Linked DNA regions of Homo sapiens: all the other regions are linked to region 6. The links come from fine-mapping of genetic effects on plasma protein levels. Region 6 holds a variant in brackets. A gene starts in each other region. All regions are shown on their forward strands.

What was found. PIP is the posterior inclusion probability: the model's chance that the variant is causal. The UK Biobank Pharma Proteomics Project read protein levels with antibody pairs (Olink). The fine-mapping took linkage between variants from a reference panel, not from the people measured, so its PIPs are less certain.
Region 1: it holds the start of CD48, and the variant in region 6 is fine-mapped to the plasma level of the CD48 protein (UK Biobank, PIP above 0.99).
Region 2: THBS4 starts here. The variant in region 6 is fine-mapped to the plasma level of the THBS4 protein (UK Biobank, PIP above 0.99).
Region 3: CD58 starts here. The variant in region 6 is fine-mapped to the plasma level of the CD58 protein (UK Biobank, PIP above 0.99).
Region 4: PTPRC starts here. The variant in region 6 is fine-mapped to the plasma level of the PTPRC protein (UK Biobank, PIP above 0.99).
Region 5: CD244 starts here. The variant in region 6 is fine-mapped to the plasma level of the CD244 protein (UK Biobank, PIP above 0.99).
Region 7: it holds the start of CD28, and the variant in region 6 is fine-mapped to the plasma level of the CD28 protein (UK Biobank, PIP above 0.99).

What each region holds. Positions count from the first base shown.
Region 1 is chr1:160,709,550-160,713,964 of GRCh38, forward strand. It overlaps CD48 (CD48 molecule), which reads right to left and starts at 2,273. Exons shown (of 4, transcript NM_001778.4): 1 at 2,133-2,273. The coding sequence starts at 2,214. RefSeq lists enhancers at 2,522-2,701, 3,242-3,301.
Region 2 is chr5:80,032,902-80,037,316 of GRCh38, forward strand. It overlaps THBS4 (thrombospondin 4), which reads left to right and starts at 2,447. Exons shown (of 22, transcript NM_003248.6): 1 at 2,447-2,724. The coding sequence starts at 2,637. It also overlaps the pseudogene TRMT112P2.
Region 3 is chr1:116,568,145-116,572,499 of GRCh38, forward strand. CD58 (CD58 molecule) reads right to left here and starts at 2,882. Exons shown (of 6, transcript NM_001779.3): 1 at 2,759-2,882. The coding sequence starts at 2,828. LOC124904385 (a long non-coding RNA gene) reads left to right here and starts at 2,831. Exons shown (of 2, transcript XR_007066497.1): 1 at 2,831-2,909. RefSeq lists an enhancer at 1,954-2,013 and silencers at 2,484-2,553, 2,624-3,083.
Region 4 is chr1:198,636,858-198,641,272 of GRCh38, forward strand. PTPRC (protein tyrosine phosphatase receptor type C) reads left to right here and starts at 2,183. Exons shown (of 33, transcript NM_002838.5): 1 at 2,183-2,280; 2 at 2,369-2,484. The coding sequence starts at 2,412.
Region 5 is chr1:160,861,116-160,865,530 of GRCh38, forward strand. It overlaps CD244 (CD244 molecule), which reads right to left and starts at 1,772. Exons shown (of 9, transcript NM_016382.4): 1 at 1,502-1,772. The coding sequence starts at 1,562. RefSeq lists an enhancer at 1,588-1,637.
Region 6 is chr17:7,164,410-7,168,824 of GRCh38, forward strand. No RefSeq gene overlaps it. Among named protein-coding and RNA genes, the nearest start is that of ASGR1, 13 kb to the right of the region's middle. The variant G/A (reference allele first, on the strand shown) is at 1,684.
Region 7 is chr2:203,704,632-203,709,019 of GRCh38, forward strand. CD28 (CD28 molecule) reads left to right here and starts at 2,008. Exons shown (of 4, transcript NM_006139.4): 1 at 2,008-2,117. The coding sequence starts at 2,066. RefSeq lists an enhancer at 1,888-2,037.

The DNA of each region.
Region 1 (4,415 bases), not on the chromosome of region 6:
TTGTGGACAGATGGGGAATTGGGTAGTTGTGGAGCATGCCCTAAATCATTGCCTTGAAACCAAAGAACTGAGAAACCCAAGTCTGAGGAGAGAAGGAAGAAGAGAGCTAAGAGTGCTTCTCAAAGTTTTCCACAGAAGCATCCCTTACGGCAGAGGAGAGAACTACTTGCACTTCTCAGGAAGATATGGATGTGTAGTCCAAAAGGAAGTTTTTTGAAGTTGTTCATTCATTTGTGTAACAATTATTTATTGAGCACATGCCACACTCCAGGCCTGTGCTAAGTTCAGCAGCACAACACTGCACATGGTTTCTGTCCTCAAAAAGTTCAAGGAAACAGATGATCCACCAAGCAATTCACAAACCATAATCTGGAGCCTGAGGTTCCCATCTAACCATGCCTTCAGAACACAGTCACAGGCAGACAGTCCAAGAAGAAGTCACATAAAAACAGAAGCCTAAAAGAGAGGCAGGGAGAGGGCAGGAGGGAGAGAAATCTAGGTGGAAAGAAGGCATGTACATAAGCCCAGAGGTAAGAGAAAACGCCTCTTTTAAGGCAAACAGTAAAATTAAGAGATTTAGACACATTGACCTTCACCAAGATTCCCTCGCCTTAGTCTAGGAAAGGTATAATCATAATAGAATGGTTTGGAAGTTAGACCTGTGTGCCCTTAGGAGAATTTCTTAATCTCTCTGCAAGACAGTATTCTCATCTGAAAAATGTAGATAATAATAGCCACCTCACTATTTTCTAATGAAAGTTAAATGAAAAAGTATGCAAAAGGCCTAGCACAATGTCTGACACACAGTAAGTGCTTAATTTGTATTTTACTAACCCAGGTTATAGCCCGGGTGTTATAACCCAGGTTTACTAACCTCATCAAAACCAATATTATCCATTCAAAGGATAACATAATCAGGTGTGGTCTGATTGTTTCAAAGAAGAATAAATGACCAAGATGAAGCCTAGAAAAGAAGTCAGAGAAAGGTCAACTGTCAGGATGTTTTCAGTATGCCTAGAGAAAGTCCTAAAATATTCCAATTCTCATTGGCAACCCTGCTTTTCCCAATAGTTAGATGAATACTTCACATCAGCCCCCAATCCCAAGGTCATACCAATGTCCTATGCATTGAGTCAGGCCCACAGAACCTATATAGCCGTAGACTCACACAGTCATGAACCAAAGGACTCTACCTGAGAGGTAGAATATGTGAGAGACCGATCCTCCACACATTCTACCTCATCTCCCCAAAAGTTACAAACTATCATCATTTTATGCCACAGTGTGACTACCACATGTTTGTTGATTTTTACTGTTTTACTCAGAGTGGTGAGCATTAAAGCCCTTTAAATTAAAAAGACTTGAGTATTTACTTGGGGGAATAGCAAGAAAGTCAAAGGTTTCACTGCTGTTTCTCAGCTGGCATAAGAAGAGAGGTACTGGATGAAGAAAGAGGGTGAGGCAGCTCTAACAGGAGAAGGAAAGTTAGCTCAGCCCTTGGTCACACACCGGGGACCGAACAGGCTGTGGCAGAGGAATGGACCTTAACTCTTAGCAATCAGATGTGTTAAGGTTCCTTTGATGCTGAAGCACTTCCAGCCTCTTCTCAGACCCTCATTCAGAGACCCCAGACAGCAATCCTTTCCAAGCTTTTCTTCCTATAATTTTGATCTATCTTTTCTTTGGGTCAATGACAATATCATTTACCTTGGCTCAGGATGCAACACCTCACATATACAGAGGTCTCAAAGAATGCCTAAGGGAGTACAGTGTGTCTGAGCATAAAATGCAGCAGCTGTCAGTGTAGAGCTTCTTCTTATTCAAAATGAAAAAACAAACACTTTTCCACAACTTCATGGACCACCAACCACGGGACAAAATATGAGGAGCCTACTTCTCTTGCTCCCCAGGTTCCTGTTTTGATCACATCCCCGTGGGAAAGGAGATGAAGCTCCATTCATCAGTGCTAAGAAAGGCTCCCCAACCATGCCATGGCCATGCTATTGGAATGGAAATACCTGCTTTCCAGACACCAGATCTGGCTTCTAGGGTTGAACTACATCCCGTCTCCCCTTTCCCAACTGACCATGCCTTCAGTGCACAATCACAGATACACAGTTGGTGGAAAGTACCTTGAATGCTGGTCACCAGGAGTGACAGAGGCAGCAGTAGCAATTCCAGAGCCAGACACGAATCCCAACCTCTGGAGCACATGCTTCCTTCCAGAACTTCCCAGCAACGCAGGAGACAGTTGAGAGCCTGGCTAGAAAAAGGCCGGGGCTAAAAACGGAACTTACCAAACAGGGTTAGAGAGAAAAAAAAAAAAACCACTGAGATTTTCTCTCCACCCAGCACACTTGTGTGGGGCCCCAGAAACCAGAAACCGGAGGTCTTGTAAATTTTTTTATCTAAGAGCATCACGGAAACTGAGAACAATTTTGTTTGAAGGTACATGAGTGCTTTTTTGTAGGGGGAAGATTCATAGCTTCTACTGTACTCTCAGGGGGGCCAGTACTCAGAAAAGAATAAGGGACCCTGATAGAGAATGTCTGCTTTTCGTTCCCAGGCAGGAATCCCTCTGATTAATTCAGGGGCTAAGACATAGGAGCTTCCCAGTCAAGCCTGGGTAGGTGTCATTCAGAGCCTGAAGTCTGGGAAATCAGACCCACGTAGCCTTTGTGCTGCATATCTTACCCCCAGCACCACCCTCTGCTCTTCTTCCTTTATGATAATTCACTATTTGAAGTTTGACATCAGCCTATCCACTGAACATCAGAAAAAAAGTAAGATTACTTGGCCCAAAAGAATGGATTTCCCACCCTTGTAGTCTGTATTAGTCTGTTCTCACACTGCTAATAAAGACATACCCCAGACTGGGTAATTTATAAAGGAAAGAGAGGGGTTTTGTTTTGTTTTGTTTGTTTTGGTTTTTTTTTTTTTTGAGATGCAGTCTCACTCTGTAGCCCAGACTGGAGTGCAGCAGTGCAATCTCAGCTCACTGCAACCTCCACCTGACAGGTTCAAGCAACTCTCCTGCCTCAGCCTCCTACATAGCTGGGATTACAGGCAAGCACCACCATGCCCAGCTAATTTTTGTATTTTTAGTAGGGTTTCACCATGTTGGCCCGGCTGGTCTTGAACTCCTGACCTCAAGTGATCCACCTGCCTCAGCCTCCCAAAGTGCTGGGATTATAGGCATGGGCCTGTGCCTGGCCAGGAAAGTGGTTAAATTGACTTCTAGTTCAGCATGGCTTGGGAAGCCTCAGGAAACCTACAATCATGGTGCAAGGGGAAGCCAATACGTCCTTCTTCACACGGTGGCAGGAAAGAGAAGCACTGAGCAGCAATGGGGAAAGCCCCTTCCTTATGAAACCATCAGATCTAGTGAGAACTCACTATCACGAGAACAGCATGATGGTAACTGCTCGTATGATTAACTTACTTCCTACTGGGTTGCTCCCATGATATGTGGGGATTATGGGAACTACAATTCAAGATGAGATTTGGAAGGGAACACAGCCAAATCATATCATGTCTAGGAAATTTCAAGCTCATTCCTATTGAATGTAAATTAGTTATTTGCCCACCCAGGACCCACAGGCAAGCCACAGTTCCTGATATAACATATTTGTAATCACTTTTTAATTGGGGACATTTCTGATTCTCAACATGGAGATGAACAATAAAATGTCTGCTCTTCTCAGTCCTCAAACCTGAAGGACATTATGTTAAGTGAAATAAGTCATGCACAGAAAGATAAAAAACCACGTTCCCAATCATATATGGAAGCTTAAAAAATGAGCTCATAGAAGTAGAGAGTAAAATTGTGGTTATCAGAGGCTGGGAAGGGTAGAGGGAAGTGGAGGATGGGAAGAAGTTGGTTAATAGATACAAAGTTACAGCTAGAGAAGAGGAATAAGTTCCAGCATCCTGTAGCACTATGGAGTGAATACAGTTAAGAATAATTTAATGTATATGTTCAAAAAGCTAGAAGAGAGGATTTGGAATGTTCCCAACACAAAGAAATGATCAATGTTTGAGGTGATAGGTATCCTAATTGCTTTGATTTGATCATCACACATTGAATACATGTATCAAAATATTACTCTGTATCCCATAAATATGTATAATTATTATATGTCAACTAAAAATAAAAGGGAAAAAAACATAAAAGTGAAAAGAAAGAACCCTGCAAATAAAATTTGAAACAGCACCAGAATCAAATTCCTCTTGGTCAAATTGTTACACTTTGGAACTGTGTGTTATATTTTTCCTATAAATTGATTTAACCTTAGGATACGACCCTGCTCCTTCAGCAAGAAAAGATAACATTGTATTAGATTTTTAAAAGAGACCCTGTAAATTAATGTTACATTCTCTTTTTTGGGGGGAGGGGGGCACAGGCTCCCACTCTG
Region 2 (4,415 bases), not on the chromosome of region 6:
AAGTTGACACTCAACATTAACCATCATGATGTGCAAGCTATTTTGCTGGGAATTTGCTAGGATCGAAAATTCCTAGTTTTTTTGTTGTTTGTTTGTTTTGGTTTTGAATCTTTAATGAGAAAAAATACTATTGTGCTCAAGAACACCGTGCGTCTGGTGTGTCATTGGGTCAAGGGTTGGGGACACACATGGCAGAATTCAGAAACAGGGTAACATCAACAAAAATACACACGGTCATAAAAAGAAAAACTGGCACCTGGCATGATCAACTCTGTTTCCTCATCATTCAGCAGCATGTTGGGGATCCTGCGGCTGATGGGGAACACACGTCCAGACTCTGGGCACTGCAGGGTGCCCTCCAACACATCTACCTCCAGCAGCACGTGGTGCATTGTCCTCACCATGGAGATTCCTAGCAAATACTCTAGGTATTTTAAATAGAAGAAATTTAATACAGGGAAATGATTACATATATAGTAGAAGAACTGAGATGTCAAACAGAAGAGTGAGGCAATCCACATTTTAGCAACTGCAGTAAGTGACCTCCAATGTCATGGCTGGAGGGTGCAAATGGTGAGAAGGCAGAAGCTAGAATCATGGTGGACCCCACCTGCAAGAGTCACAAAGAAGATGCATCCATTCAGGTCACAGAGAAGTAAATACTCTAGTGTCTACCTTCTACCTTCTTATTGCTCTCTAGTCTCCCATTTTATCTAGACTGCTGACAAGCATGCAGTGGAAGGTGAGCACCAGATCTGAGAGGAAACAGGCAGTGTCTGGTGGCACACTACACAAGAACTCTCACAGGCATCCACTAGGCTTGCTTGGTGACTCATTTAAGGAGTAACCCTATTTTATGTATCAGAGTAGTCTATGGTGTGATATAGCATATTGCTGCTTTTGATGTTTGGTTTCATTTGTTCCCTGTAGGCACCTAATCACTGTTTTTTAAATTCCCCAGGAGATTCTGGTATACCCAATCAGCTGAGAACCACTGAATAGTGGCTTTCAAAATTTTGAGCATCCAAATATTGTCTTCACAGAAAATCTTAATCTCTGAAGTCTACTGTAAAAACATAGAAAGGCAAGGCTGTTCTGCTTGAAGCGTAGCTTGGGAGCCTAGATTCCTCTCAAACCCAGGCCACTCCTGGGAACATGGTCTGGAGATTTGAATGTTCCCAAATCTAGTTTATCTCATTAGTCGATATTTATGCACATCCTCTGTGTCTCTCAGTGTTCTCTCATGTGTAGACATATGCCCCATTCCAAAGAGTGACTGTAGTGTAATGTGGCATTAAAGGAACCCTGGATAGACCTGTATTGGACCTTACATATTAGAGAGCTCTGCAGATAGCTCACAAATCTCCAAGTCGCTAGCTGTAAATTGAGTGATAATTGGTGTCAGGTTATTTTAGCACAGTTTGGGGATAAAATGGTGCATTAATCTCCCAGTTTGTGGCTTATTAAACTTTGAAATGGAATTATTTGAGACATAAAAGAGATAGCAATACTTTGCTGGATGTTCTCCATTAGTCGAGATTGTTACAGAGGAGAAATTTTTGCCACTGTTTATCAAATATTTTTTCCTCTAGTTAATCCATATCATTCCGGGAGCTTTGCCCAGGAAAAGGACGAATTACTTGCGTTCCTCCGATCTCTTTCAAGTTCTACTCCCGTACCTTTAAACTGTCACACGGAATCTTTGGTGACAGAGGAATAGAGGTGGGCAAGCAGGGCGTTTGGAAACCATACTGAAAACGAATTATCCATAAAGCACAGATTCACCAGCCTAGAAATGGCTCTGTCTGGATGGATTCCTTGAGATGTGTTTTATCTCCATTAAAAACACAACAACTTTCAAACTTTCACTGTGTCTCAAAATGATAGAGAAAAAAATTCAGCCTTTCAAGTATTCAAGAAAAGCTTGAAGAAATAAAAGAAACTCGCTGCTCTCTGGGCCACTTTAGGAGGCAGAGCGTTCCTGGAGAACTTCAGGATTCATTCGCAAGGGAACCCAAGGTGGGCATTCAAAGCCGATCCAAAGGATATTCTTCTTTTTAGAAAACAAAAGGAGCGCAAGGAGTAGGGGACTGAAGGTGCCCAAAGCTAGTGGGTCAGTGTCACTTTCTTCCTCCCTTTCGCCCCTTTCCTCCCGCTCCTTTCTCCCCTGTGGTCTCTGCTCAGCACCCCTTTCTCTCCAGCCCCGACTGCCCATCTTCGCCCCTACCCTCGCGCGTCGGGGCCGTGTCTACACCCACCCCAGGACCTGGTCCGTCCAGGCTCCTTCCCATCCTCACACCCGCGCCTTTCTCCCTGCGGCCCCGGCTCGCTGCTCCAGCTGCCCAGCTCTTCCCAGGACAGGGGATCCCGCCAAGGGGGCCGCCCCCGCCCCGGCCCTCCCCCGCCCGGCCGCACCATAAAGCGCCCGGCCGCTGCCGCGGAGCCCAGCAGCCAGCTCCCCAGCACCGCACGGCGGGGACGCGAGCGCGCCCCCGACGGCAGCCCGGACGCCGAGCACGGGTCACCTGCGGCGCCGGCCCGGGCGCCGACCGAGGTTCAACGCACGGCCCGGGGACCCCCAGGCGGGGCCAACGCCGCCGTCGCCCCCGGCCTCGCGGGGAGCAGGAAGAGCCAACATGCTGGCCCCGCGCGGAGCCGCCGTCCTCCTGCTGCACCTGGTCCTGCAGCGGTGGCTAGCGGCAGGCGCCCAGGCCACCCCCCAGGGTAAGTGGGTTCGGGTCGGGCCTGGGAGCGCCGGGCACCGGGTGCCCCATCTGCTGAGTGAGTGGAGGGACTTGCTCGGCCCTGTGCTCCTGTGGCCTTGCTCAGCCCCTCTCTGTCCCTCCCGGGCCCAATCAAAGCATATTGTGATTGGAGGTAGTGATTAGTCTAGAATTTTCCGAAATTCGATTATCCAATGATGAGAACAATTGCCTAAATAGTTGGGGGATGCAAAATTGTTTCAGACTATGCAAAGATGTGGGGTGGGGTTGCCTTCAAAACTTGCTACACGGTCCTAGACCTCTTAACATGTTAGGCTCTGGTGTAGGGTGAATTCCGGGTCCTGCACCCTGTGCCGGTTCCCTCCAGGCAGCCTTGCTCCCTAAATCCTTCCTCAGGCGGAGCGATGTATGCCCAGAGTCTGCTCTTGACATCCCTGAGAAAGACGCAGAATTACTCTACTTGCCCTGCCACCTGCATTTTCTGCTCTGACTTTGCTTGAACGACAAAAAGAAAGTTTATTTCAAGGATTGGCTTGATGTCTTAATTTCTGAGGTAAATAGGAAGGGCTGAGAAACTGGTCTTTTTCAATGAAATCAGTTCTTTGCAGCAAGATGGATGCAGCTGGAGGCCATTTTCCTAAGTGGATTAAGGCAGGAACAGAAAAGCAAATACCATGTTCTCACAAGCGGGAGCTAAGCAGTGGATAGATATGGACATAAAGATGGAAACAGTAGACACTGGGGACTCCAAAAGTAGGGGGGAAGGTTGGGAAAACTACCAATTGGGTACTACGTTCACTGGGTGATGTGTTCACTAGAAGCTCAAATCCCACCTTATGCAATGCACCCATGTAACAAACTTGCACATGTACCCTCTGAATCTATAATTTAAAAAGAAAAAAGAAAGAAATTGATCTTTTTCTATGAAACGGTAAAAATTCAACAAATAATGTGAAAAGATACTTGGACAATCCTCAAACCCCTTGGTGAAATGGGGTGAAATAGCCATTGGGTAGAAAGCAGTTAAACAGAATTTTTTGTAAAGACCAAAAGGAAGACATGATTTAAGCAAAGAAAGATCTTAGGGCTATAACTGGCCCTAACTGGTCAGGCGTGAGCTTCATCTGTTTGAACTTGGTGCCTGGGTTGATTTATTACTGACTGTGGAAGTAAAACTGGAAGAGACGCACAACTTGAAGTAAAAGTTGTTTTTCCTCTTGTAGCCAGAGCAAAGACTGCCTATGAGGGCGTTCTCAACTTCCCTGCCTCTCGCTGCTGGAATCACCCATTTAAACTGCATTTCGCCAAATAACTCATTTTCATTCCAGACCAGACAACCAGAACTGTGGTTTCAGGGGTTAGAGTACTGCTAACTTTTAGTTTGTGTTGAAGTATTTGAAATGCTGTAGTCCGTGCCCCATACTTCTAGGAAGGTAAAAAAGGAAGCTTTTAAACACTTCAAAAGTCTTATTGTGATGATATTTGGCAAGTTCAAATTTATAGGTATAATTTTTTTGTGTTATATACGTTCTTGACTTTTGAACATACAGCTTTATGGTGTGCCTTAGGTATGTCTCAGACATACCTGACCATTTTATGGAGATTTGAACTCGGCCTATACAACCTAAATTATCTGGGTAATTTAGTTGCTGTAGATGATCTGATTAAGTTAAGTTTCTGATAGATTCTTTT
Region 3 (4,355 bases), not on the chromosome of region 6:
CTTCTGGGTTCTCTACCAGGAAACAGTATTGTATCAATGCCACATTTCCAGATTATGATGATTCTGTGACTTGTTGGAGAATGCTCTTGTTCTTATGAGACATATGATAAAGAATTACAGGTGAGGTGTCATGAGATCTGAAACTCTCAAATGGTTTGGCAAAAATAACAGATGGCAAAAATAACAAAGAAAACTAATGTGACAGTTAACTGGTGATTCAAGGAGAAAGTACGCAAATGTTCACTGTACTAATTTTGCAACTGTCCTAAAGATTTTAATTGTTCTAAAATTTCAAAAAAAACCCTAAACTGAAGTATTAACGACTTCCATCACCCCTTTCTTTGCTTTACTCATCTCTGTACTAGTAAATGTTTACTTTATCACCATCCAGCATCCATGTTTTTACTCATTTACTTACTGTCTCTCTCCCTCACTATAAGGTGAGCTTCACAAAGGCAGGGAACTGTGCATAGCTTGCTGTATCCCCCGTCCATTGTGCAGTGCTTAACATATAATTGACACTCAGTAAATATTTATTGCATGACTGATGTTCCCAGTAATTCTATGAAGTGGGTTTATTATTCTCCTTTCCCTCATGTGAGTGGTACTCTCTTCAAAAGTGAAGGTACTGAAGTGAAGAGAAGTTAGGGAACTCACACAAGTTCATGACTCAGGTGAGGAGTGGGGCCAGGATCCAAAGCTAGGCATCTGACCCCAGAGCTGATGCTGTTAATCACTGCATTTGCAGCTTCCCTAATGAGGCAGGCTTGGGTCCCCAAAAGGGGATATACCCATTCAGTCTTGTCTTTAGTTTAAGGCCTATGCAGAGCAGTTTATAAATACATGTTTGCTGAATCAAATGACTTCTGAATGAATACATGAATTAGGTGAGAGAGATCACCAGGAAGGGACAGTTCAAATAATCTGTTGGAGGTGGAGCTTGGGCAAACTGGGTTTGCAGTGGAAGGGAGAACACAGGTACAGGCAGCAGTGACCCAAGGTGCCAGGGAATGAGGGACCAGCTTGCCTGGAGGAGAGTTACCCCATCCATTCAATTAATCCCTGTTTGTATCTCTTCTTTTCCCCAGCCACCCGCACATGAACTCCCCAGAGCTATTTGGGCCCTGTGATGGTAGTCCACCCTGGCCTTCTGGCCTCCCTGCCTCCAATTCCTCCTGACTGCAGCCTTCCTCTTTGTTGCTAACAGATTCTTCTTCCCAGGCGCATGGTCCTGATCCTGTAAGGCCCAGGAGAAGCTCTCTCAGCTCAGAGAATCCAGACTCCCTAAGGGGACACTCAGCAATCTTTTCCCACATTATCACATGTCCACACATCACCAGTCCTTGAAGGCTGGGCTCAAATATCCTCCCTCCCATGAAGACTGCTTCACAAAAGACACTTGATTTCACAAAAGAGACTGCCTTCTTCTTCCCTCTGTACCCTCACAGCTCACCTTTTTTTTTTTTTTTTTTTTTTGAGACAGGTCATATTCTGTCACCCAGGCTGGAGTTCAGTGGCACAATCACAGCTCACTGCATCCTCTGCCTCCGGGACTCAGGTGATTCTCCCACCTCAGCCTTCCGAGTAGCTGGGACTATAGGTATGCGCCACCACGCTCAGCTAATTTTTGTATTTTTTGTAGAGCCGATCTTTCACCGTGTTGGCCCTGCTGGTCTCCGATTCCTGGCCTCAAGTGATCCACCTGCCTCAGCCTCCCAAAGTGCTAGGATGACAGGTGTAAGCCACCACGCCCAGCCCAGGCCTCTTACAACACTGACTTATCTGATCGTGCGGGTACTTTTGAGTCTATCTCAACCCCTCCCCCTTGGCTGTCTTCCATAGATGCACACGCGCACCTCCCGGGCAGGCAGCGGACGCTGAGCAAACGGACGGACGGGCTGGAGGGCTGGCAGTGGGGTGCAGGAGCCAGCCATGAGAACCCCTCAAGTACAGTTGAACTCGCTGGGAGGTTACTGCTGTACTCCCGGGGTTTTGCTATGGCCTGACTGGGGCCAATGTGTGGAGGGTGAAGGAGGATGGGGAGGCAAAATGGGAAGAAGGGGACCTATTTCCTGAGGTTGTTGTGACGACTTGGCTGACAACACACGGAGAGGATGGAACCAGTTCTGATACTAGTTTTTAGGATTTGAGGGGAGGAAAAAGGAGCAGGAGTCGCACCACTTAGGAATCCCAACGTGAGGCCGCTGCCGACTGGGCTTCCTAGTTGCCTACCCGCTCCTCGCTGTGGGGCGATTCTGAAAAGTCCTCTCTGCTGATACGGCGGACGCCGCGCGGGCGGGGACGGCACCGCGCGGGGAGGGCAGCAGGCGTCGCCCTCGAGCAGGTGGCATCCGCGCCCGCTCCCCGTCCCGGGCGCGTTCACGGCTGGGAAAAATTTTGCAGTCCGCTGAAGCGCTCAGCGACGTTACTGGGGAAGCCCAGGAAGGAACTTGGTCACTGGAGCTCGGGAGGGGGCCGGCGGGGGGGCGCAGGCCCCGCAGGAGAGGCTAGCGGGCCGGAGCCCGTCCTTCCCTAAGGCCACACAGTTCCTTGCTGACTCCATGAGGGACACTGGCGATGAAATAACAACTTTCTCTTCCTGAAAAGGCTCCCACGGCTGAGTTGTTCCCGGCCCACAGCGACCCGTCCCCACCCGTCTCTGATCGGCAACCGCCTCGAGCCCGGCGCGTCCACCCAGCCTGGGTGCTGCCCAGTACCCGCCGGCCGGCGCGGGGCCCCTGGGGCAGGCTTCACTCACCAAAGCAGTGCAGCAGGCAGACCACGCTGAGGACCCCCAGGGCCCGCCCCGCGTCGCTCCCAGCAACCATGGCTCGTCGGGCCGGCCTCTGCGCGAGTGCCCAGCCACAAGCAGCCCTAAGTTCAAGCACCGCCTACGCGGTCGGCCAGAAGTAGGGCTCCGCCCCGCCCTGGGCTGGCAGCCGGCGGCCCGCCCCGGCCCTTCCTCCCCCACCCTCCGCGGCGCCGCGTTTGTCTTCGCGCTTCCACTCCCCGGGCGCGCCTCTGGCCTCGGCTCTGCGCGCCTCCTTCCTGTGTCCCCGGGGCGCCGTCCAGTCCCCCAGCTCGGTCCCTCCCGTCATTCCGCCGCCATTCCATACGCTATTTTTAAGTAAGAAATTCTTTCCTTGAAAATGGCTTGGTTTTAAAAACCAAGGTTTTAAAGTAAGAAATTCTTTCCTTGAAAATGGCTTGGTTTTAAAAACCAGGTTTCTCTGCCTTCCTACCGCACCTCCCGCGCTTCCCCTTAGCGTTTGGGGCGTGCTGTAGGCCCCTCCGTGGCTAGACGGGGCTGTGGCTCCCAGAGAGCCACCGGAGGAGGCAGCAGGACGGGCGGGAGCACCCGGGGCCCCTCATCCCTTCAGCGCTGTGTGATCCCGCATCAGACGGCCTCTTTGAACCACTTTTCCTCAAACATGACAAGGAAAGGGAGCATTTTAGACAACTGTTAGGCGTAGGGTTACCTGAGGCAGGCCTCCCCCGTCCCCATACTCCCTTATCCCCGGAGCTGGGATTTCCAGCCTTTGGTTTCTCCCTTCTCAGATTCCTCTTTTTCTGTCTTCCCCCATCTCAACCGGGACTTTCCCTCAGGCTGAGATGTCAGATCCACATCTCCCTCACTGCCCAGCCTCCCCACATCCATCCAGCCCAAGCTGAGGCAGGCACTCATCACTCTCCCCGCTCTTCATCAGTCTGGATTGAGCTGGCCCTCCCCTCACATCCCTATATCCCAGAACAAATGACCCTATTCCCAGAACCAGCTCCTCACATCAGCCTCCCTGTCTGTCCCCTTTCTTGCAGACAGAAGCACCAGAGTTGCCCCTGCCCAGCTGAGGGAGTTCACAGAACTCTTAGTTATTATGTGAGCAGGAATCCATTTCCATGAACAGGACTCCCTGCTGCCCAAATAACCACCAACACATACATGGTGCAGGTTGTGAAACTGAGTGGGAATGTGCTTTCTTGCTGCTTCACCTCCATTATCCCCAGGTGGGGACTCGAAGTCACTCAAGACACTTGAACCATATTGCAAAGAGACATGAATTATTTCTTAAGTTAGCCATAAAATCTTAAAAGGTATCTCTATCAGTGAAACTTCTGGGACCAATGCCCTCTACCACAAACCTGCTATCTCGAGATATTCCCTACCATCTGTAGATACTGGGAACACAAGGCAGGGGCAGTGTGTAACATAAAATATGAGGAAATCAAGTGTTCTCTGCCCTGGGCTGGTAGGAACTCAGGCCAACTTAGAAAGGCAGGATGGGGTTAGACCTTCAGACACTGGGGAGCCACAGAAAGTTTTTGAGCTGGGAAGTGATATGACAGCAAACATCTAT
Region 4 (4,415 bases), not on the chromosome of region 6:
CCATCAGAATTGTATATACATTCATCTGCTGATGTCTCTGTATTTCAAGCTGTATGTCTTTACACCTTTATAATACACAGTACAGATTTTGCTGCTTAAAATTCTAGTATTTCCTATAGACACTAAACTCAATTTTAACACAATGAATATGTTAAAACATTATATATGTGTTGGATTAACACATATAATGCAACTCATTTGTTGCTAATCTATCTTGGATTCCTTGGGTAGAATCTGTCTTCTCACCTGTCTGAAATGGAATTGAATCTCCTAACTTCTTACTATTTTTTTAAAGCCACAAATCCCTTTTAAAATGTCCGTTTAAGGCTGCTAAACTCACATTGTTATAGAGTATATTTTATATACTTTTCTTCCTTTTAAAAGATCATATACACTTTTCTCCTGGCCTCTAATTTTGCCAAATATTCTGCCATAACAGCAAGCTCACAGAACACAAGTATTTGCTTAAAGATATTTAAAGCAAATCCCCAAAGAGTTTTCTGTTGCAAATGTATTTTAAGACATAGGCTGAGGAGCTGAGTATTCAAATCCATGAGTTCTGACACTGATGTTTTATTAGGCCTACCCACATGAAAATTAGTGCTTACTTGCACAGTTATCTTATTTAAAAATACATTTGCAAAAAGAGAATAATTTCATTTTCACTGATTCAAAGGTCTATCTTTTCGAGTATTATAAACTTACATAGTACAAAAAGATTGGTAAAAGGGATGAGAAAAATAAAGGGCAATAGTAAGGTGAGTAAGGAAAGCAAAATTAAACTTGGAGACTTGGGTTCTAAATATAGCTTGTCTACATCCTAGCTGCAAGATCTTAGGCAACTCAACTAACCTCTCTGAACATCACAGATAAAATGGGGAATAATAACATTATCTAGCTCAAGGGTATCGTACAAATTATACAATATATGTAAAGTGCAAAGCATAGTTCCTGCACATAGTAAGTGCTCCATAAGTTAAATATAATAATAATCATAGTAAAATAATATTCTTAACTACAATCTTATTAAAAGGTTATTACCTAGAGTTTAAGCTGTGGGGTTATTTCCATTTGCACAAAGTGTGATAGAAATTTGGCTCTGTAGTTCCTAGCAGCCAATGTAAGAGTAAAACAAAAAAGTTTGTAAGTATCAAAAGATTTATTTACTTAAATATAAGAACCCTACAATAATGCTTCCAAACTAGGGTTTGCAGAATTACCACAAGGGCTCTGTCTGTCTAAAAGTCCCCCAAGCATTATCTATTGTTCAAATAAATGAGTTGCACATGTGTGTACTTTTATTTTTAAAGGCATATAGATATTGTATTAATAAAACCAATTCATCTAATTGTATTGTTGAATTTATACTTTTTGCCAGTAAGCATTTTCCTAATAGATGGACTTAACTAAGAACATCAGAATGGTGAAGAGCATTGTGTTAATACAATTCATTGTCTTATTTGTTAAAAAAGTTGAAAAAGTATTGCTGAGAAAAAGGAAACAAGTTAACTTTTGTTAAAGGTATCTCTTGGTTTTCACTGTCCTTTCCCTCATCAGTAGCGCCAAGAACATCTTAAGTCACAGAAACATTAGTTTTTGGAAGCAGGGTTTGCTGTAACTATAGTAGAAATGACATTCTGATTCCACTCCTAGCTTCACAAGGATATCTGTGAAAGATTTGGGGCAAAACTGTTAAGCTGTCTGAAAGTGCTTTTGCATAAGAAATGGGTTTTACTGCTAAAACTGTCATATTGCTGAGTTTTGAATGCCCTAATGGTAAATGATACTGGGTTGCCAAAAATAACCAGATTAGTAGTTTTTTCATTCATTTGGCCGTCTCAGTAAGTCAAATATTGATACTTTCTACTAAGTCATCTTGCCAACACCCATTTTGTTATACTTATGCTGAATCTGTTTGTCATCTCTTAAGTAAGAAAATTATTGATTATTTTGTGGGGATTTAATTTAAAAAAAATGGTAATGGATACTGTAAAGGAGCATTATTTGGATGGTTTAAAAACATCTTCCTTGATGGGAAAATCTTTTAAAAGGCTTTCTAACTTGGTGTAATTACTTGAATTAAGGAAGTGCAATGCCATTCTACTGACTTAGAACAACTTTTTTGACTTCCTGCAAAGAGGACCCTTACAGTATTTTTGGAGAAGTTAGTAAAACCGAATCTGACATCATCACCTAGCAGTTCATGCAGCTAGCAAGTGGTTTGTTCTTAGGGTAACAGAGGAGGAAATTGTTCCTCGTCTGATAAGACAACAGTGGAGAGTATGCATTTATTTATTTACTTTTACATTTTTGATTCGTTTTTACAGAGAAAAACTTCTACAGAGATAACAATTATTTTGCTTTTCAGAAGGACGCATGCTGTTTCTTAGGGACACGGCTGACTTCCAGATATGACCATGTATTTGTGGCTTAAACTCTTGGCATTTGGCTTTGCCTTTCTGGACACAGAAGTATTTGTGACAGGTAAGTACAAGGATATTAATATTTTTTAAATTATTTTTTCTCTTTTGGAGGAATGTTTGAAATAGACATAAAAATAATTTAAATGTGTTGGTAACTGGAAGTGAGAAGCCTGCTGTAAACCATCAAGATTGTTGTCTCAGGGAGACATAGCTAGTTGTGTGACAGAATACATTGTTTCTGTTTACAAAGACATAAATGTTTCGGGACAAAAAATACAATTTTAAAAGGAAAGCAATGTCTATCTGTATCTTTATTTACAACTGTTCAAAGATATTACAAAAGCAACATTATTACTTAACTTCCAAAGTGACAATAACACACATTTATAAAAGCCTGAGAATTTTTTAATGATAAAATAAGTGAGTTTTTATTCTTTTAACAAATTTGATCTTTTAAAAAGTCATAAAACAGCTTTGGTTGTATGTAAGCCACTCCCTCTTTTCAGACCTGAAGTTTGCTTCCTCAAATTTTGAATTTAATTGACATATTTTATTGAATACTTGGGTATATAATAGTTCAAAAATATATTGAGATATTTAGTAAAATATTAACTTTCTGCAATTTTTATCACAGAATGTATTTTAAATCAAGTTTTTAGTTTCTTGTTAATAGTTTTAATACATTTTTGCTTTAGAAATTCTTGTGGAGCCACCGCCCTTCCTGGGTGGTGGGTAAATATTACAGCCTTGATGAGATAGAAATATTTAAACTCTTAAAAATCATGCAAATGCTGTATTCAGTAGGAAAATGCAACTAGTTGGACTTCCAGTGCCTATTAAAGTTTGAAATCTTTGCACATTTATGGTCTATTCAATGGATAGTTCTTGAGCGGCGTCAATATGAATCATGAGTACATTTCAATAGATTATAGAATGTAACTAATAATTAATATTTAATATTTCTCTTTATGATGTAGTATCTAAAAGGACATTGAAAATAAAATTTTTGTAGAAATTCCAAAAAGTATAAAAAGTATTTTAAAACAACTTGCTTATTACAATTCACTTTGAAGTCTTTTTTTGACTTTTACCGTTCTTCTTTCCTCTGAAAGTCAGGGAAGTAGCTACCTCTTGAGCATGTTACATTGACAATTTCTATTTGGAGAGGAAAGAAAGAGGAAAGAAAAACAACATAAGATTTTTGTTGTTGTTGTTGTGGCTGTTTTGCTTTTTATTGCAAAGGTGAATTTTTTAAAAATCTATATATTTGCAGCATTTGTCTTAGTACAGAAAATGTTTATCAAGTTACCATCCCTTTAAAGCTTATGATAATAAAAAGTAAATTATAAAGAATAATAATCTCAATGAAGTGATATATGTATATTATCACAAATCAGAACAGATTTTCATTTAAAATTCCCACTCAGGAAATGTCGAAAAGCATTTTTAAATGAGCATAAAGAAATACTGAGACATTTTGTAAGCCAGAATATTTTTCTTCTCTTCATATTCATTTAACTTCTATTATTTTCTTCAGGTCTAGCTCCATTGCTTTTTATTCCAGGCAAACTTCCCAACCTCCTGAATAGACCAAATATCCTATTATATGCTTAAATCAGAGTGTGAAATATTTCCTTTGTGAATAAAAATTCAACTCATTCTATTACAGGATGTTTTTTTAACCATAAGACACATCTTTGAATTTATAATTGAAATAATATGATGGGGTCTAGAAACCTTTATATCAACTTTGCTGAATGATTTATACCATAGCAAATAAATGGATATACATAAATTTATTTTGAAAACTCAACTTTATCTTCAGTTGCTCACATAAATATTGAGAGCAAACATTTTTCTAAAAGACATTTGTAGACTCCCTGAGATATATGCTTATTTGTGGAAAAACATATACAGATATAATCATTTGTATCTGCAAATATTGTTTATAATCCTTTCAAGTTGCAAGAAACATTTTGTGATTTAATGTAT
Region 5 (4,415 bases), not on the chromosome of region 6:
GTCCTCCTTCGGCTGTCTGAGCTGCATTCAAGGATCCTTAGACCAGGTTCCAACCTAGCTCTCCTGCCTAGAATCCTGGGCCACTAGGCCCCCCAACCCACCCACAAGAGCTGCAGGCTCCACTCCTCCCTCCCTGCTCCCTGTTCCTCATCATGCTCTGCCCTAGGCTGCCTGCATCCTTACAAATGTTGAGTCCACCTGAGCCTTGACTGTGTCTTCCTGAAGGACACAAGAATGCTCAGGGACTCGGTAACTGAATTGAGTACCTGGGCATGGGACTTTATTGCATATGGGGCTTCTACCTGGCCCTGAACCCACACAACACTATGCCTCAGTTTCCCCTCTTTGTGCCCAGAGTGTACCCTCCTCTAATTCCACGCTCTCCACCTCCGTGAAGCCCCTGCAGAGTCACTGATCTAAAATGCAGAACCCTGGCTGGGCATGGTGGCTCACACCTGTAATCCCAGCACTTTGGATGGGGGAGACCAAGGTGGGCAGATCACCTGAGGTCAGGAGTTCAAGACCAGCCTGGCCAACATGGTGAAACCTGGTCTCTACTAAAAATACAAAAATTAGCCAAGCATGGTGGCGCACGTCTGTAATTTCACCTACTCGGGAGGCTGAGGCATGAGAATCACTTGAACCCGGGAGGCAGAGTTTGTAGTGAGCCAAGATCACGCCACTGCACTCCAGCCTGGGTGACAGAAGGAGACTCTGTCTCAAAAAATAAATAAATAAATAAAAATTAAAAATGAAATAAATAAATTAATTCAATTAAATTAAATGCGGGATCCAGGTTTCAGAGCATCCTGGACCCCAGAACTGGAGAAAGAGGGGAGCAGCCCTCAGCTGGGATCCCCAGGAGTAAATGTTAGATGGCTCCATGCCTGGCTGACAGCTTTAGGTTTGCTGTGGAGCTTCCTCATATTGTCTCCTTCTTCTGCCCCAACCCTGCATGTCCCTAATAATTTCCAGGCTCCTGTGGCATCTGGATGGCTGAAGAAGCCGGGGAGATGAGGGACCATGCCTTCCAGCTTCTTCCTGGCTGCTGGCCTCGCCCTCCCCTCCCTGGGCTCAGCTTTCCTGCCTCAGGGGTCCATCCATCTGTCTCTGAGCTCGAGAACCACCCACTTCCTTGGGACTGCTTCTCTTCTCTCATGCCACAATTGGAGGATGCAATTTTCATCATCTTTACAGGCGGCTGGAAGGAGGCTTCTCTCTCCACTACACGGAAGGGTAAATTGAAGCCAGTGGGAAGGAATCTCCTCACCCAAGACTTCCTGGATTGCTGGTGGCAGGGCCAGATACCCCTCTCACAGACCTCCCAGTGCACTGCCAGCCTGTCCTGTCTGATTTAGACTGTCAGAGCTGTCAGGAGCTGCTCGGAGTCAAGTTCCAGATGACTGTGTATGTGGCACAAGCAGAGGCTCTGGCTCTGATCTCCCTGAGGGGCACAGCTCCTAGTCCCTCCCTCGCCCCACGCCAGGTAGGACCTCCTTACCTTTGCCCTGATACACCTTGAGGAGCAGGAGGAGTATGAGGGTGACCACTTGCCCCAGCATTTCCACAGGACAGAGGGGCCAGGCCAGCCCCTCCACCCCACCAGACTCTCTGCCGTGCACGGGCTCAGCAGTCCCCAGTCAGCAAGAGGACGATGGGGAGCAGAACTGCCTTGCAACCTGTCCAGCCACAGTTTCCTCAATTAGAGGCTGTTAACGCCTGCTGTGAGCTGACAAGGCCACTGAGAAAGCCCCAGCGCCTGGAGCTGGTCTGACAGTTCCCACAAGCCAAACTGGTGAAGCTTACCTCAAGTGGGAGGGTGCTTGAAGTTCACAGTGACTCACAAAGCCAGTTTCAAAATTGCATCCCGTTCTCTGCTTCAGCCCAAGAAGTCTTCCAATTCTCTGAATCCTATATGGAGAGACCCCCATGGGGGCCAAACAGCCAGTATCCCCAACTGTTCCATTCCAACAGACATTGTGGAGGTGGAGTGGAGAGGGGCTGGAGGAGGAGTGGGCTGAAACGTAGGGCCCTGGATAAGCGGCTAACAGTGTTGAAGGAAAGGAGGAGTAGCTGAGAGAACATAGGAAGAGACCTAAGGGCTGGAGGCACTAGAAAAATCTAGCAAGCCTGGGGATTCCATGCAAGTTGACACCAAAGTTTAAGCACATGTAAATTAAATTTGTTTCATAAGAATTTGTTTCACACGGGGCACAGTGGCTCACGCCTGTAATCCCAACACTTTGGGAGACTGAAGCAGGCAGATCACTTGAGATCAGGAGATCGAGACTAGCCTGGCCAATATGGTGAATCCCCACCTCTACTAAAAATAGAGAAATTAGCCAGGCTGGGTGGCGTGCACCTGTAATCCAAGCTACTTGGGAGGCTGAGGCAGGGGAATCACTTGAGCAAAGGAGGTGGAGGTTGCGGTAAGCCAAGATCACGCCACTGCACTCCAGCCTAGGTGACAGAGCGACACTGTGTCTCAAAAAAAAAAAAAAAAATTTTGTTTTGCTCCACATTTCCGATCTGTATGCCTAGATTCCCTCCCTTCCTCTTTTTCTACTTTTCTATAGTAGTCCTCTCTTCCCTCTTTTGTCTTCTCCCAGAAGTGACATGGGCCTATTTTTGCTGCCTTCCCATCCATGCTTGGACGCCACCCTCCAGGAAGGCCAGGCAGCTCTGGATCTGCTTAGGCCCCCATGGAGGGGTGGGGACAGCGGCATCCCCCCTCCCCTGGAACACTGTGCTTCAAGGCCAGGCCCCAGGGTTCATGCCTCTTTCTTTCTTCCTTCTGCTTTCCCCTTAACAAATACTTTCAGTTCCCTTCAAGTCCGCTCTTATTCTCTTTTTCCATCCTTTGGTCCATTTCCAGCCACCCTGTCTGAACTGGGCAGGGGGCAGCAGACTGACAGCTTCAGCTGCCAACAGAGGCAGCAGCGGGGCTCTGGACAGAGCGCTGGATTTAGAGTCAAAGACTTGGACTTGCAGCTCCCATTCAGCAACTTACAACCTATGTGATTCTGGCCTTGTTGCTGTCTGAGCCTGTAGGGTCAACAATACATCCTCCCCACCTTCACAAGGCAGTTTTCAGGATCAAATTAAAAATGATACTCCAGAATATGCACACAAAAAACACTGGACATAGATGAGGTTTTTGTGGTTTTGTTTTCATTTTTTTAAGCTCTGAATAGCTTTTTCCAGCGGGTCTAATGGTTATCATCTCTTCTCTCCTTTGTCTGCTCCCAAGGGGCAGCCCTCAACCCTGGGGAATTTCTTCAGAGTTGATCTGGCCATGTCCTTAACCTTGAGAAGTGGTGCACAAGACATGATATAACAAAGAAGGGTAAACTTCCTCACACGACAGGTGGAAAACAAGATCCAGCTGTTGGAACCCACTAATGAATGTGAATTAGGAATCAGCCTCTCCAATCCTGACCCCAACACCAGCTCCATCCTTCCCACCAGGCATGTGGATGACCTATCATCCCCTGGAAACAGAACTCGGAGCAGCTGTACCACTGAGTGTGTGTCTGTCTTGTGGTCCCTGACAAACTCTATCACACAATATCTGCTATTTGTAGGCTGATCGCAGTGGCTCATGCCTATAATCCCAGCACTTTGGGAGGCCAAGGCAGGTGGATCACTTGAGGTCAGGGGTTCGATATCAGCCTGGCCAACACGGTGAAACCTCATCTCTACTAAAAATACAAAAATTAGCCGGGTGTGGTGGTGTGTGCCTGTAATCCCAGCTACTCGGGAGGCTGAGGCAGGAGACTCCTTTGAACCTGGGAGGCAGAGGTTGCAGTGAGCTGAGATTGTGCCTCTGCACTCCAGCCTGGGAGACAGAGCAAGACTCTGTCACAAAAAAAAAAAAAAAAAAAAAGGTGCTGGGCGCAGTGACTCACACCTGTAATCCCAGCACTTTGGGAGGCCTAGGTGGGTGGATTACCTGAGGTTAGGAGTTTGAGACCAACCTGGCTAACATGGTGAAACCCCGTTTTTACTAAAAATGCAAAAAATAAGCCAGGTGTGGTGTTGCATGCCTGTAATCCCAGCTACTTAGGAGGCTGAGGCAGGAGAATCATTTGAACCCAGGAAAAGGAGGTTGCAGTGAGCCGAAATCACGCCATTGCATTCCAGCTTGGGCAACAAGAGCAAAAACAAACAAACAAACAACAATAATAAAAAAAAAAAACAACCTGCCATTTGTTCTACACACTGACCTCCCCAGCCCTGAGCTCTTCAACACAAAGTCTATGCTCTCCTTAGCTTAGTGTTTCCAAGCCTCACCCAGCGCCTGGTTCTTCAGAGTTGATTCGTAGATTGTCAAGTGCTGAAGGAATGAATGAATTCTCTAAGGAAGACATTTCTATTTCCCCTGAGATAGACTGGTTAGCTGAGTCACCATGGAC
Region 6 (4,415 bases):
CAAAGTCTCCCTCTGTTGCCCAGGCTGGAGTGCAATGGCTCGATCTCGGCTCACTGCAACCTCCACCTCCCGAATTCAAGCGATTCTACTGCCTCAGCCTCCTGAGTAGCTGGGATTACAGGCGCACGCCACCATGCCCGGCTTATTTTGGTATTTTTAGTAGAGACAGGATTTCATCATGTTGGTCAGGCTGGTCTCGAACTCCTGACCTCATGATTCACCCGCCTCGGCCTCCCAAAGTGCTGGGATTACAGGCGTGAGCCATCGTGCCCGTCCTGATACTATGTATTCTTAATTCCAGTAAATATCTTGCAGAATGGCTATTCCAATTTATCCTCCCATCAGCAGCTTCTCCCACAACCTTGGCAGCAATTGACTTCCTCTTAATGTTTGTCAATTGGATGGGTGTAAACAGATGGCTCACTCGTGTTTGATTTCTCTAGTTAGTCACTAGTGATTGTAAACATGTCTTCATATGCACATTAGAACCCCAGGCTTCCTCATCTGTGAACTGCTTGTTTATACCTGATGCCACTTTTCCAATAGGTTTCCTGTGTATTTCTTCATCTTGGTCTCCTTCTGTGTTGAATGTCTTCCATTTGTCCTTCCAGATCCACACTCTATCCTTCTCCATGTTGTTCTGTGGCCTGGGAGGCTGAGCTGTATGACTGCATCAAATCGCTCCCTTGCCATCTGGCTTCCAGCCCTCTTCCAGGAAGAGAGGGAAGTGAGGATATTAACTCCCCGGCCCCTCCCTGTAGAGTGGCTGTGGGTTAGCTGCCCCCTGCAACTGAGTATCACAGCTCCTGTTGGGAGGCCCTCTCCCTGCGGTCCTGGAGGTGGTAACAGCTCCCCACTCTGGGATGCCTAGGTTCTTGCTCCATCTTGTGGCTTCCCTAAGCCTGTTCACACCTTTGCAGAGAGTCCCTATATTATGAAATCTTGCACTTACCCATTTTTGGGTGTGCCATCTGTTGCTTGCTGGGAGCCTACCTGATACATTGCTGTTGAACTGAAATTTATCATTTTCATGCAATTTCACAAATTTTTTTTGGCTTTTTGGAATGTGCTTCGGAGGCCTTATTTAACAAGCTCTTCAGCCGGGCGCGATGGCTCACACCTGTAATCCCAGCACTTTGGGAGGCCAAGGTGGGTGGATCATGAGGTCAGGAGATGGAGACCAGCCTGGCCAACAGGGTGAAACCCCGTCTCTACTAAAATTCGAAAAATTAGCTGGGCGTGGTGGCGCATGCCTGTATTCCCAGCTACTCAGGAGGCTAAGAAGGGGAATTGCTTGAACCTGGGAGGCAGAGGTTGCAGTGAGCCAAGATCACGCCACTGCTCTCCAGCCTGACGACAGAGCAAGACTCTGTCTCAAAAAAAAAAAAAAGAAGAAGAAGAAACCCTTCTATACTCTTAGTAGTATAGATTTTTCTTTCTTTCTTTTTTCCTACTAGTTCTGTAATTTTATGTTATATGTTTAGGTCTTCAATCTATCCAACATCCACCTTTGCCTGTGATGTTAGGTATGAATCCAGTTTTACTTATCTTCATAGAGTGAGCCAGTTTTCCCAATAATGTCTTTCTTCTACCAATTTGAGATGTTACCTTTATTGTATATTAAGTTCCCATGTAGGCACAGTTCTGTCTCTCGGCTCTTTATTCTATAACATTGGTTTATCC[G/A]TCTATTCTTGTATCATTACTGTGCTATTTTTATTACTATGGCTTTGTAATATATTTTAAAGTCTAATAAGGCTAGTTCCCCCTTCCTCCAATTTCTCCTTTTTTTCCCATATTGACTTTTATCTTGCCACATATATTTTTTTTAAAGTTGTTGCATTGCTTTTAAAAATCCAATTGAGGTCGGGCGCAGTGGCTCACTCCTCTAATCCCAGCACTTTGGGAGTTTGAGGCAGGTGGATCACTTGAGGTCAGGAGTTCAAGACCAGTCTGGCCAACACGGTGAAACCCCATCTCTACTAAAAATACAAAAATTAGCTGGACGTGGTGGCGGGCACCTGTACTCCCAGCTACTTGAGAGGCTGAGGCAGGAGAATCGCTTGAACCTGGAGGCGGAGGTTGCAGTGAGGTGAGATTACACCATTGTACTCCCACCTGGGTGACAGAGGGAGAATCCATCTCAAAAAGAAAATCAATTGAAATTTTATTTTTATTGCGTTGAATGTATATGTTAATTTGGAAAGAATTTAAGTTTCTTCTTGTATGTTCTTCATGTGTTATTGTGGTGATAGACTAATACACCTGCCGAAGCCTCTTATTAGGTCGAATTGTTTGTTTGTTTGTTGATGGTGTTGATTTTCTGTATAGGTGAGCATATTGTTTTATCTCTTCCTTTCCAATTCTTACAACTTTTAATGTCTTTTTCTGTCTTGTGCAGTTTGGCTACCATGCCCAGGATGATGCTGAACAGCAATAATAGCACTATAACGGAGGCTTCTAATTACCCCTAATACCAATTATCCCCTTCTTGCTACACCAGAGGTCCAGAAACATCTCCTATAAAGGGCCAGATAGCAAGTATTTTAGGCTTACCAGGTCATACAGTCTTTATCATAACTACTCAATTCTGCTGTTGCTGTGGTCATAAATGACATGTAAACAAACAGGCATGGCTGTGTTCCGATAAAACTTTATTTACAGGCCGGGATCCGTGGCTCATTCCTGTAACCCAGCACTTTGGAGGCGAAGGCGGGTAGATCACTTGAGCACAGGAGTTCAAGACCAGCCTGAGCAACATGGTGAAACCCCGTCTCTACAAAAAAATACAAAAATTAGCAGGGTATGGTGGCTTGCGCCTGTAATCCCAGCTACTTGGGAGGCTGAGGCAAGAGGATCACTTGAGCCTGGAAGGCAGAGGCTGCAGTGAGTCAAGATCCAGAGGCTGCAGTGAGTCAAGATCACGCCGCTGCACTCCAGCCTGGGCGACAGAGCCAGACCTTGTTGCAAAAAAAAAAAAAAAAAAAAAAAAAAAAAACTGGCCAGGTGTGGTGGCTCACACCTGTAATCCCAACACTTTGGGAGGCTGAGATGGGCAGATCACCTGAGGCCAGGAGTTCGAGAACAGTCTGGCGAACATGGTGAAACCCCGTCTGTACTAAAAAAAAAAAAAAAAGAAAAAATACAAAACATTAGCCGGGCATAGTGGTGCACGTCTGTAATCCCAGCTACTTGGGAGGCTGAGGCACGAGAACTGCTTGAACCTGAGAGGTAGAGGTTACAGTGAGCCGAGATTGTGCCATTGCACTTCAACCTGGGCAACGGAGAGAGACTCCGTCTCAGAAAAAAAAAAAAAAATAGAAAAAGAAAGCTTTATTTACAGAAGCAGGTGAGGGCCAAAGTTTACTGACTCCTTCTCTACAAAATAGAATCCTGTGTTTTTAGCAAGAATGTGGCCTCATGGAATAAAGTTCATTTCTCAGCCCCATTTGCAGCTATCTGTGGCCCTGGGACTAATTCTGATCAAAGAGATATAAAGTGAAGTGATGGAAGTGTCTGCATAGACAGAGAGAGAATGCGCCATTCTCCTTCCCTTTTCCCCTTTCTCTTGTCCGGAATGTGTCATAACAGGAGGGGCAGACATCTTGGAACATGTGATGGAAGCCACAGATTGAAACGATGGAGCAACAACGTAGAAACAGCTAGAGTCCAGAAAGATTTCATCATAAATCAGAGCTGAACTTTTGCTGAGTGTTTTTTCTGCATTGTGTAATTGTTTTCTTTTGTACACATTTAATCTATTTTTCTGTACTCTCTAAATCTATTATATTAACAGATTTTTCTTATGTTAAATCATCTTTGAATTCTTGGCATCTATACTACTTGAACATGTTACCTTTTTTATTTTTTATTTTTTGTTTTTTGTTTTTGTTCTTGTTTTTTGTTTTTGAGATGAGTCTGGCTCTATCGCCCAGGCTGGAGTGCAGTGGCGCGATCTCGGCTCACTGCAAGCTCTGCCTCCCGGGTTCACGCCATTCTCCTGCCTCAGCCTCCTGAGTAGCTGGGACTACAGGCACCCGCCACCACACCCGGCTAATTTTTTGTATTTTTAGTAGAGACGGGGTTTCACCATGTTAGCCAGGATGGTCTCAATCTCCTGACCTCATTATCTTCCCACCTCGGCCTCTCAAAGTGCTGGGATTACAGGCGTGAGCCACCACACCTGGCCATGTTATCTTTTTTAATGCTGCATTTGATTTGATAGGCTAATATCTGATAAAAGAATTTTAGGCCGGGCATGGTGTCTCGTGCCTGTAATCCCAATACTTGAGGGCGGATCCAAGCAGGCGGATCACTTGAGGCCAGGAGTTCGAGACCAGCTTGGCCAACATGGCAAAACCCCATCTCTACTAAAAACACAAAAATTGGCTGAGCATGGTGGCTCATGCCTGCATTCC
Region 7 (4,388 bases), not on the chromosome of region 6:
ACTTTTGATCTGTCATTTATCAGATCAGGAGGGAGGGACATGAAGCCTGCCTCCTCTTACAGCTAGGTCATCAAAGAGTTTGACTGTAGCATTTTAAAATAGCGAAGAAAAAAAGGTAACAACACTAGGGGTTTGTTAAACAATTTATGATATAATTAGAGAATGGAATATTATGCATCAATTACAAATAATGTTTATAAAGATACTTAAATGACATGGGAAAATGTTCAAGATATAACAAATAATAGTACATATCTGATGAAAACTATAAGTAAAACATGATATTAAACATGTAAAAATCTTAACAGACCAACAGGTGGAAGGCAGTGGACCAGAATATTAGCAGTGTTTATATTAGGGTGGTAAGAATGTGGATGAATCTTGTTTTAATGCTTATAATTTTTCTAAACATTCTCAATGAAATATGCCTTACTTTTATAGTCAGAATAAAAAGCAATACAAGTTATCTTTTAAAACAACCCACATACACAAAACCCCCAACTAGAGTAATTGCACAAAGCTTAGATTATCAAAAAGAAGAAAAAAATTACTGGAAAAGTTTTGAAGAAGTCATTGAGTACAAGATACTGACGTAGGTGCCGGAAGAAGAGAGCAGTTGGCCGTGCTGGTGGAATAACCCTCTCTGCAAAGGGCCTGGGAGTTGAAGAAGGGTGCAGTCGGGTGGTGGTTATGAATCTCAGAAATCCTGCCACGGAGCCTCCTTTTGTGCCCTATTACTTAACCTTGAGGGACATAGAGAGCATGAGACACCAAGGGGCTTTTGGTTGCCTTACTGTCCCACTAAGAACATAGAATGTTGTTTTGACTTTCCCTTTGCTTAGGGAACCTCCCCCAGATACTCAGCTGGCTGGCTGCTTGCACGTAGAATGGGTTTTGCAAAGTTCCTAGAAGTGAGTTGGAGGAGGCTTGACATAAATCAAGCACTGTGTGCTAAATGCTCCAGAGGGCTACCTTATGTCCTACACAAATGTTACATTTCTAATATTTGTAACTCCTTTAAACGTTTATGCAGATGTTTCCCAATTCCTCAGTAGAATTCTTACCATTATCTTTTTGACACAACCTGTCCCCATCCTATGAAAATCTCTCCTCTGCTAGAGACTTTATTCTTTCTTTCTCTCTCTCCCCCTTCCTTCCTTCCCTCCCTCCCTCTTTCTTTCTTTCCATCTTTCTTTCTTTCTTTCTTTCTTTCTTTCTTTCTTTCTTTCTTTCTTTCTTTCTTTCTCTTTCTTTCTTTCTTTTCTTTCTTTCTTTCTTTCTCTTTCTCTCTCTTTCTTTCTTCCTTTCTTTTTTCTCTCTCCCCTTCCTTCCTTCTTTCCTTCTTTTCTTTTCTTTTCTTTTCTTTTCTTTCTCTCTTTCTTTCTGTCTTTCTTTTCTCATTCTGTTGCCCTGGCTGGAGTGCAGTGGCATGATCTCGGCTCATAGCAGCCTCCACCTCCTGGGTTCAAGCGATTCTCCTGCCTTAGCCTCCCTAGTAGCTGGGATTACAGGTACCCACCATGATGCCTGGCTAATTTTTTGTATTTTCAATGGAGACGGGGTTTCACCATGTTGGCCAGGCTCGTCTTGACCTCCTGGCCTCAAATGATCCACCCACTTTGGCCTCCCAAATTGCTGGCATTACAGGCGTGAGCCACTGCACCCGGCCTGTTCCTTCTTAAGAACACTTTGTCTCCCCTTTAATCTCTGCTGGATTTCAAGCACCCCTTTTACACAACTCTTGATATCCATCAATAAAGAATAATTCCCATAAGCCCATCATGTAGTGACCGACTATTTTTCAGTGACAAAAAAAAAGTCTTTAAAAATAGAAGTAAAAGTCTAAAGTCATCAAAACAACGTTATATCCTGTGTGAAATGCTGCAGTCAGGATGCCTTGTGGTTTGAGTGCCTTGATCATGTGCCCTAAGGGGATGGTGGCGGTGGTGGTGGCCGTGGATGACGGAGACTCTCAGGCCTTGGCAGGTGCGTCTTTCAGTTCCCCTCACACTTCGGGTTCCTCGGGGAGGAGGGGCTGGAACCCTAGCCCATCGTCAGGACAAAGATGCTCAGGCTGCTCTTGGCTCTCAACTTATTCCCTTCAATTCAAGTAACAGGTAAACAATGTTAATGTCTTTCTTTCTGTAAATATTTTTTGAGGTCTTCCAATTGGCTTAGTTTATTTTAAATTTCTAACAATGTGTGAAATTTGAACATTTGAAGTGTAGTTTTGCTGTAATAGGGCAATGTGTTATTTTGAAAATCATTGATTCTCAGACTACAATATAGTATCTTAACAAAAGTCCCTTGGAAATAAATTTTCTAAGCTATTAGTTTCTCTAGCTATTAGTTGATAGTGTCCCAAGAATTTATTATTATTATTATTATTTTAAATTGAGATGGGGTTTCACTATGTTGCCCAGGCTGGTCTCAAACTTCTGAGCTCAAGCAATCCACCTGCCTCTGCCTCCCAAAGTGCTAGGGTTACAGGCATGAGCTACCATGCCCGGCCAATAATTTTTAATTTATGTATCGTTTCTTTCTTTCTTTCTTTTTTTTTTTAATTTAAGAAAGCTGCTGTAAGTAGATTGGCTCTGGAAGCTCTGAATTTAGGTTGCCTATGTTCCTAACACAGGTCCAATTCTCACTAGGTAAGCTTAGGCTTAGCTATTATTTAAACTCTCCAAACCTCAGTTTCCTTAACTGTAAAGTGGGAATAATAATAAACCTCACCTCAAGGTCATTGTGAGGTAAAATGAAATAATCCATGCGAAGGGCTTAGCTCAGTCAGGCTTCAAGATAAATGTGAACTGTAATTACTCTATCTACCTGAATTGAATGAGTTCCAACATGAATTCTGGAGTCACCACAGAAGCTGCTACAACACCAATATTAATAAATTAGTTTTCTTTTACAATCGGCCAAAATGTATTTTCTTAGATTAAAATTCTTTAAGTTCCCAATGACGATGATGAGGAGGATAATACATCTAGCACTTTGAGCAGCACACAGTTCTCGTAACTAGAAGGTAGGTATTACAGTTAACTTCATTTCAGATGAAGAGACTGAGGGGTAGGCACATTAAGGGATTTGCCCAAGGATGTACAGGTGGCAGCTATAGGAGGCAGGGTCTGAACCACCTTAGTCTGACTCCAGTGCCGGTGTTGTTGATTATTATGCTATTCCATCTAACATGGTGTGATTTGTAATTTCATGGACTCAGGTAAATCCAGGGTTAAATTAACTTCGGAAAATCACAAGCACAATTCCTAACAGAAAGAATTTGTTACTTGGGTGGGCTGGAGTAAGATGCTCATTCAACGTGTTCTCAGAGTTAGAAAAAGGCCCCCGCTTGGTTCAAAAACTGGACTGATAGGGGTCAACAGTCATGCTTAAATAAGGACAGTTATTTTTCCCTGAAAGATACATTGAAAAGCCAGTATCCTCAATTTTCTTTCTTATTTTGGCAGTACAGAGACTGCATTATTTGTTGTTATTCTTAAACATTAAGTGTACATAGCCCAAAGAGTATAATTTCCCAATCTGCAGAGGTACAGTAGTTGCATATATACCCGTTTATTTTATGGTCTGACGTACCAGTGAGCACAAATTGTGTATATTTATAAAACGTGTTGATATAATGAAAGACATGAGTTGGCAATGAGATCTGGTACCAAGCGTTTACAGCTACCAAATATATTCTACAAGAATCTTTAACATTTATTTTAAAAAGGTCAAACCTTATTTTTAAGAGATCTCTCAAACTTAAAGAATATTTAAAATTACTTAATTTGTTAGACAGTCAAGGGAAGCCTACCCTGACTGAAAACTATTTAAAATTGGTAATTGTACACTAAATACTTTTCTGATGTGCTTTGTGGACACCTATCTGTCATCAACTTATTCACTCTCTTTTGAAGAGTTTTTGGTAAGACTCAAAACTTTGTATGTTTTCTTTAGAACATTTATTAAAAGGGGACTAGCTAGATAAGTGGTTGGAGAGTTCACACACATAGGGCCTTTGTTTTCTACTTTGACATATATTTACTTTTCAAATGCCAATTCACTTTTCTAGTAACTTTTAGCATTTGATACTGAGTGGCTATCTAATGAAGAAGGAAAGAGATGGGAGTGAAGGGGACACTTTTACAGTCTTTTCCAGTAAGAAAACTTACGAGCAAGAAAAGAATGACCACATAAAAAATGTATGATTTGGCCTGGTGTGGTGGCTCACGCCTGTAATCGTGGGACGCTGAGGCGGGTGGATCACTTGAGGTCAGGAGTTGGAGACCCGTCGGGCTAACATGGTGAAATCCCATCTCTACTAAAAATACAAAAAAATTAGCAGGGTGTGGTGGCATGCGCCTGTAATCCCAGCTACTTGTGAG